Homo sapiens: one gene and its partner. The protein of the gene in region 2 interacts with the protein of the main gene of each other region in a pairwise test. Each region holds a gene or a part of one and is shown on either strand. Other genes may lie near its edges. The genes, in order: AOC1 and CYB561A3.

Region 1 (3,558 bases), on a different chromosome or scaffold from region 2:
TTGTACATATGTCGTTCCTGTGTTTACAGGTGGATCTTGGGGATAAACCCCCTGAGGTTGGGCCAGTGTGCCAATGGATAAAGGCATGGTGATCCTGCTAGATCTCCCTGTAGCATCTTCTCTATGGTTGTGCCATTTTGCAAGCCTGTCACTGACACTGGGAAATTCCCTTGCAGCCTCCCCAAGAGAAAGTTGTCACTCTCAGATTTTTTTTTTTTTTTTTTTGAGACAGGGTCTCACTGTGTCTGTGTTGCCCAGGCTGGAGTGCAGTGGCGTGATCTCGGCTTCTCAGCTCAAGAGATCTTCCTATCTAACCCCCTCTGCCCCAGGACTACAGGCGTATGCTGCCCTGCCTGGCTAATTTTTTTTGTATTTTTTAGGAGAGATGGGGTTTAGCGTGTTGCTCAGGCTGGTCTTGAACTCCTGGACTCAAGTGATCCTCCCATCCTCCCGTCTCAGCCTCCCAAAGTGCTGGGATTACCAGCGTGAGCCACCGTGCCTGGCCAGTCTCAGATTTTAAAAAAACAATCTGATAGGTGCAGGATTTCAGCGAGCTTCCTTTTTGTTAGTAATGGTGGCTTTTCTGGACTGCAGTAGACCAGTGTGAATAAAGTACATGCCATGTGTGTGCATGTCCGTGTGAGTGCGTGCACGTCTGTGTGTGTGCACGTCTGTGTGTGTGTGCATGTCTGTGTGTGTGTGCACGTCTGTGTGTGTGCACGTCTGTTCGTGTGTTTCCTACACACATGGCCCTGTGCCTCCCCGCAAGAAGCAGCACACAGAGCGAGGCTCTGAGGGTTTATTGTCTGCCCCAGTGAGGCTCCTGGGCTTCCTGGGAGGAACTGGGGGAGGAACTGGGGGCTGGTCACACAGGTCTATAGGTCCCATTGTAGCTAAAAGGGGGAGGCATCGAGCAGTCCCTGTCCTCAGGGATCCAGCGCTGGACGTAGTTGGGGCCGTTGTCCCGAGGCCACACGATCACAGTGTCTCTGGATGCCAGGGAGGGGTCCTCTGGGAAGAAGTTGAATGGCCGGAGCAGGAAGCCCACGGAGTTCCCAGGTGTGGCTGTGTTGGGAATGTCCTCTGAGTGGGGGATGTGCAGGAAGCCCACCGTCACCCAGGCCACCAGGTCCTGCAGGAGACAGGGTGGGCTTCAGTGGGCAGGGCTGAGTACTGACCACTGGAGGCCACTCTAGCCTTTGGTCATTTTCAGTTCTGCCTGGAAACTTGCTGAATTCCTCTCCAGCCCCTTTTTAAAGAGATGAGCAGCTCTGTTGTGACCTCTGAACTTGCCGTCCACACAGCAAGGCACAGCTCCTGCGACTGGGGACAGATCTGGGCAAAGGGTGGTTGGGACTCCCTGATGGTGATGAGGATGGTCCTGGGCTGAGCTGGAAGGAGGCAGGGCCAGCACCGGGCAGGGCTGGGGACAGGGCAGTACCTCATTTTCAATGTTCTCGTTGTTGTGAAGAAACTGCTCAAAGACCACGGGCGGGTGCCAGGGGTCGTTCTGGTGGTAGATGCTGCTGCTGCACAGCTCCGACTCCCGGTACTTGGTCACTGCCAGGGGGTACCTGCCAGGCACAGGCGAAGCAGCTTGGCTCAGGGCCCTGGGCTGGCCCCCCTCAGTCCTGCCCAGGGAACAGCCTCAGGGTCAGAATAGAGGAAGATGATTGCCTTCCCCAAGATGACAGATCATCTGTCCTGGGAGTCAGCAGGACGGGCTGCTGTTAACCGGGTTCAGGTGACCCACAGGAGTCCTCCCCGCCCCCCTCCCCAAATGCACAGAGACACAGGCCCAGAACAGCAGGCAACCCTTGCACAACACAGGTGTGAGCTGCATGGGTCCTCTTTCTCTCTCTTTCCTTCCTTCTTTTCTTTTCTTTTTCTTTTTTTTTGATGGAGTTTTGCTCTGTCACCCAGGCTGGAGTGCAGTGATGCGATCTTGGCTCACTGCAACCTCTGCCTCCCAGGTTCAAGTGATTCTCCTGCCTCAGCCTCCCGAGTAGCTGGGATTACAGGCGCCCACGACCACACCCGGCTAACTTTTGTATCTTTAGTAGAGACAGGGTTTCGCTGTGTTGGCCAGGCTGGTCTCGAACTCCTGACCTCAGGTGATCTGCCCACCTTGGCCTCCCAAAGTGCTGGGATTACAGGCGTGAGCTCCTGCGCCCAGCACACAAGTCCACTTTCATTTGGAGTTTCTTCCGCCTCTGCCACCGTGAGACAGCAAGACCAGCCCCTCCTCCTCCTCTTCCTCAGCCCACTTAAAGTGAAGGAGACGAGGATAAAGACCTTTGGGATGAGCCACTCCCACTTAATGGATTGTAGATATATTTTCTTTTCCTTAGGATTTTTTTTTTTTTTTTTTTGAGAACTAGTCTTGCTCTGTTGCCCAGACTGGAGTGCAGTGGTGTGATCTCGGCTCACTGCAAGCTCCGCCTCCCGGGTTCACGCCATTCTCCTGCCTCAGCCTCCCAAGTAGCTGGGACTACAGGTGCCTGCCACCATGCCCAGCTAATTTTTTGTGTTTTTAGTAGAGATGAGGTTTCACCGTGTTAGCCAGGATGGTCTTGATCTCCTGACCTCGTGATCTGTCTGCCTCAGCTTCCCAAAGTGCTGGGATTACAGGCGTGAGCCACCGTGCCCGGCCAGGATTTTATTAATAACATTTTCTTTTCTCTAGCTTACTTTATTGTAAGAACACAGTATCTGACACACAGAACCTACAAAATATGTGTTCACGGAATGTTTCTGTTAGTGGTAAGGCTTCCGGTTAACAGTAGGCTATTCGTAGTTACGTTGTGGGGGAGTCATAGTTACACTTGGCTTCTTTACTGCTTTGGGGGGTTGGCACCCCTACCCCCCATATTGTTCAGGGTCAATTGTACACACAGATATACACATACGTATATGTGTATATCCACATAGACTAGGAACCCCATAGACACAAACACAGACAGACACAGACACACACACTGAGGGAAGCCACTGACCCTCCCCCAGGCCCCCTGGGTCTTCCTCACCTTGCCCAGGTGATGGCCTGCTCCTCCTGCCAGCCTGGGGGCAGCACCTGGTCGGCCATGGAGTGGATCTGCAGGCGGTACGTGCGCTTGTGGCCCCAGGGGTTCTCCTGGGGGCTGGTAAAGAGCAGGTACTTAGGCAGCTTCCTTTTGAAGCGGAAGGCCGCCTGGCGCTCCCAGGAGTACTGCGTCTGCTCCAGAGTTGGCTGGACCACGCGGTGTCTTGGGCTCCAGGGGTTGGTGATGTTTTCTAGCTTCATCTGCAGTGTCTGGAAGCTGTTCTTGGTGCCTGGAGGTATGCAGGGAGAAGGAGAACGAGAATCAAGCTGCCAGAACTGAAACCTCCTCATTCTACCCCAGGATCTCCATCCTCCACCACATCCAACAGCCAACTGTCTTGAATAACCGGGATGTTGGGGGATGCCCTGGGCGGCTGTGGTGATTCCATTACCACTCTGGGAAGTTCCTCTCAAGAGCTGTGCTCATGCCCATCTGCTGTGGCTGCAATCCTAGAGCAGGGGCACCCATTTTTCTC
Region 2 (3,814 bases):
TATTTGTATAATGAGCCAGGTGCAGCGGCTCACTCTTGTAATCCCAGCACTTTGGGAGGCCAAGGCATGAGGATTGCTTTACCCCAGGAGTTGGAGACTAGCCTGTGCAACATAGTGAGATCCTGTCTCTACAAAAATAAAACTTAGCTAGGTGAGGTGGTCCATGCCTGTAGTCCTAGCTTACTTAGGAGGCTACATTGGGAAGATCGCTTGAGTGCAGGAGTTTGATGCTGCAGTGAGCTATGGTCACACCATTGCTCTCCAACCTAGGCAACAGAGTGAGATGCTATCTCTTGGCTGGGGGGATAAAAGGAGAGAGAGAGGGTCTTCCTATGTTGCCCAGGCTGGACTCCTTCCACCTCAGCCTCCCTAGTAGCTGGGACTACAGGTGCATGCCACGGCACCCAGCTGTAATAATCCTTTTACCCATGAGGAAACTGAAGCTCAAAGCAATGAAATTAACTTGCCCAAAGTTGCATAACTAGTAAATGGCACAGCCAAGATCGAAACCAAGGTCTGACCTTAAGTCCTAGTTGCTTTTCACTACACCCCATTGCCTCAAAAGAACGGACAGTAGTGGTCAGGCATGCAAGGCTCTAGAGTCAGACTGCCTAATCTGAGTCCCAGCTCTGCCACTTACTGGCTGTGTGCCCTCGGGTAAGTTACGTAACCCCTCTGTTCCCTCATTTTTTTTATTTTTATTTCTACCTGAACAGTCCTATTGCAGAATCTGTTCCCTCAATTGAAAATGGCAATGACGGCCGGGTGCAGTGGCTCATGCCTGTAATCCCAGCACTCTGGGAGGCCGAGGCGGGCAGATCATGAGGTCAGGAGTCCGAGACCAGCCTGCCCAGCATGGTGAAACCCCGTCCCTACTAAAAATTCAAAAAATTAGCCGGGCATGGTGGCACACACTTGTAGGCCCAGCTACTTGGGAGGCAGAGGCAGGAGAATTGCTTGAACCCAGCAGGTGGAGGTTGCAGCGAGCCAAGATTGTGCCACTACACTCCAGCCTGGGCGACAGAGTGAGACTCCATCTCAAAAAAAAAGAAAAAAGAAAATGGCAATGACAACAATACCAATCAATACCAATGATGTAGGGTGGTTGACAGGATTAAATGTAAGGTGCTTAGTACTGTTTCTGACACACAGCAGGTGCTAAATCAAACTGATGCTCAATAAATATCTGCTGACTTACCAATTTCAACCTAAAGAAAGATCAATTCTGTTACCTTCCAGATCAGGAGTGGACCCAACCCCAAAATCTCTCCTCCCTTGGGTGAGTCCTGTGATCACAGGGTGTATCTTTTGAAGACCCTATTCCCTCCTCTTCACCTTAGAGTTGGGGACCCCACTGCACTCACAAACTGAAGAAAAGCTTCTCATTAATGCCCGAAATGACGGATGCGATGGACAGAGAGAGGATGGCGGCTCCAAAAAAGACGTGGATAGGTTTTAGGAGGCTGCGCAGCCACATGGACGCCCAGGGCAGGAGGAAGACAGCAAAGCCCAGGAACCACTGTGGACAAAAGGGAGGACACACCCGACTGTGCTATGTGTGACCAAAGCACATCCCACCCCATCAGTGCCTCCTCCCCATCTCTGCTCCCTGGCTCTTCTTTCACAACTCAAACCTTCCCACCTGGCATTGCCCACTACCGTGCTAGCTTCCTCATTGTGGCCTATTACCCAAGCAACAAGAACAGTAAATGACATGCTTAGCTACCATCCCACTCCCAGCAAACCCAACCACCTTGTTTGTCTCTGGTTCCTTCCAGTCCTTGCTCATAAAACTCTTCACTCGCACAGGCCTGAGATCAGAATATGGAAACCACTTCAAGAATTCTTTTGGTTCACAGAGGTGGGAGTGGGGAAAGTGGAAGCCAGATGGCTGATTAGAGTCAGCATAGTGCGTGCCATGACAAAGTTAGCAGAGAGGGCTCTGGGACGAGAGACGGGCAATGGGAGGGATAAAAGGAACAGGGTAAGTTCAGGCCACTGACCTCCCACAGCCCTTGAATAAACTGTCAGTTCTACAAGATAACAATCTGCAAGTCCCTCTCCAAGCAGTGAGCAGAGGAATATTTGGTGCTCATGCAAGTGAACCCCCAACCAGAGCTCATGGCTCTGGGAACCTCGAGGAGGAGAACAGAGAGAACCCACCTGGCAGGCGAAGAGGAAGACAGTGGTGATGCCCAGCCAGCTGTGAAGGGAGTAGAGGTTGGCAGTCCTTCCATGGTTGTGAAACGTAAAGACAGCAACCAGCCCCACAACAGTGAGGACGAAGGCCATCAGGTGCAGCGCTGCATGGAGGAGTTTCCAGGGCAGTTTGGGCCCCACCCACGACTGGGGCAGGCGGTACACCAGTGACGCTGCAGGAGAGAGTAGTGCCAGGGCTCAGCCTCTCCCCTCGAGCTCACCCAGACATCAGGGAATAACCCTGATAGGATCCTACACAGCTTCCCAGCAAGGGAACAGGAAATGCTAGGGCACTGGTATCAACTCCTCGGCATCTTCTACCCTCCCATGATTTGTGGGATAACAGCCATGAAGGGAGGAGAGAAGGGCCAGTTAAAAAGGGAGGAGTGGTCAGGCAAGGTGGCTCATGCCTGTAATTCCAGCACTTTTTGGGAGGCCAAGGTGGGAGGACTGCTTGAGGCCAGGAGTTTGAGGTTACAGTGAGCTATGATCATGCCACTGCAATCTAGCCTGGGCCACAGAGAGAAATAAATAAATAAACAGATTCCAATTAAAAAGGGAGGAGGGCTGGGCACGGTGACTCATGTCAGCACTTTGGGAGGCCAGAAGTTCAAGATCAGCCTGGGCAACATAGCAAGATCCTGTGTCCACAAAAAATAAAAATAAAAAATATTATCCGGGCATGGTGGCACATGCCTGTTCTCTCAGCTACTTGGGGGACTGAGGTGGGAGGATCACTTGAGCCTAAGAGTTCAAGGCTGCAGCAAGCTATGATCATCCCACTGCACTCTAGCCTGAAAAAGAGGGAAACCTGTCTCCTAAAAAAAAAGTGGAGGGGGGAAGCAGGTTTCTTGGACCTCTCATTCTATTTTCACAATAATAAATTCAGCTTGTTTGCAGTTTCTAGGCTAAAAAGCATCATGACAGTCATTGTTTCATCAAACTGAATTGTCACAAGTGAGGCTGGCTGTCAACACAGGTACTAAGGTCAGGCAACATAGGTCCAAATCCAGGCTCTGCCTCTTAGCTGTTTGGCCTCTCCTTTCTTTTTTTTTTTTTTTTTTTTTGAGACAGAGTCTCGTTCTATCATCCAGGCTGGAGTGCAGCGGCGCAATCTCAGCTCACTGCAAGCTCCGCCTCCCGGGTTCACGCCATTCTCCTGCCTCAGCCTCCCAAGTAGCTGGGACTACAGGTGCCTGCCACCATACCCGGCTAATTTTTTGTATTTTTAGTAGAGACGGGGTTTCACTGTGTTAGCGAGGATGGTCTCGATCCCCTGACCTCATGATCCGCCCACCTCAGTCTCCCAAAGTGCTGGGATTACAGGCGTGAGCCACCACGCCTGGCCTGGCCTCTCCTGTCTAACTCTCAATTTCCTCATCTGTAAAAGGGATATAACAGAGCCCACCTCACAAACTTGTAAGAACAAAATGGGATGATATATGTGAACTGCACATGGTAAGCTGCTATCATCAATGGCATCGTATTGCCATTTTACAAATGGGGAAAATGAGGCTCACCAGGGCCCCAAGGCACAGATTTGAAAGCATGGGACAAAGATTACAAAGATGGATCCCAGGTTGGGCGCAGTGGCTCACACCTGTAATCCCAGCAC

Evidence for each region.
Region 1: the proteins of CYB561A3 (region 2) and AOC1 interact in a two-hybrid assay, tested with the Homo sapiens proteins (one large-scale study listed by BioGRID).

The regions. Positions count from the first base shown.
Region 1 is NC_000007.14:150,858,517-150,862,074, reverse strand, and holds the end of AOC1 (diamine oxidase [copper-containing] isoform 2 precursor), read right to left. Parts: intron 3,313-3,558; coding exon 3,027-3,312; intron 1,632-3,026; coding exon of another isoform or gene 1,575-1,631; coding exon 1,442-1,574; intron 1,133-1,441; coding exon 866-1,132; 3' UTR 571-865; downstream 1-570. UniProt on the Homo sapiens protein: Catalyzes the oxidative deamination of primary amines to the corresponding aldehydes with the concomitant production of hydrogen peroxide and ammonia.
Region 2 is NC_000011.10:61,351,621-61,355,434, forward strand, and holds part of CYB561A3 (lysosomal membrane ascorbate-dependent ferrireductase CYB561A3), read right to left. Parts: intron 2,373-3,814; coding exon 2,164-2,372; intron 1,943-2,163; exon of another isoform or gene 1,812-1,942; coding exon of another isoform or gene 1,754-1,811; exon of another isoform or gene 1,563-1,753; coding exon of another isoform or gene 1,520-1,562; coding exon 1,365-1,519; coding exon of another isoform or gene 1,240-1,364; intron 1-1,239. UniProt on the Homo sapiens protein: Transmembrane reductase that uses ascorbate as an electron donor in the cytoplasm and transfers electrons across membranes to reduce iron cations Fe(3+) into Fe(2+) in the lumen of the late endosome and lysosome.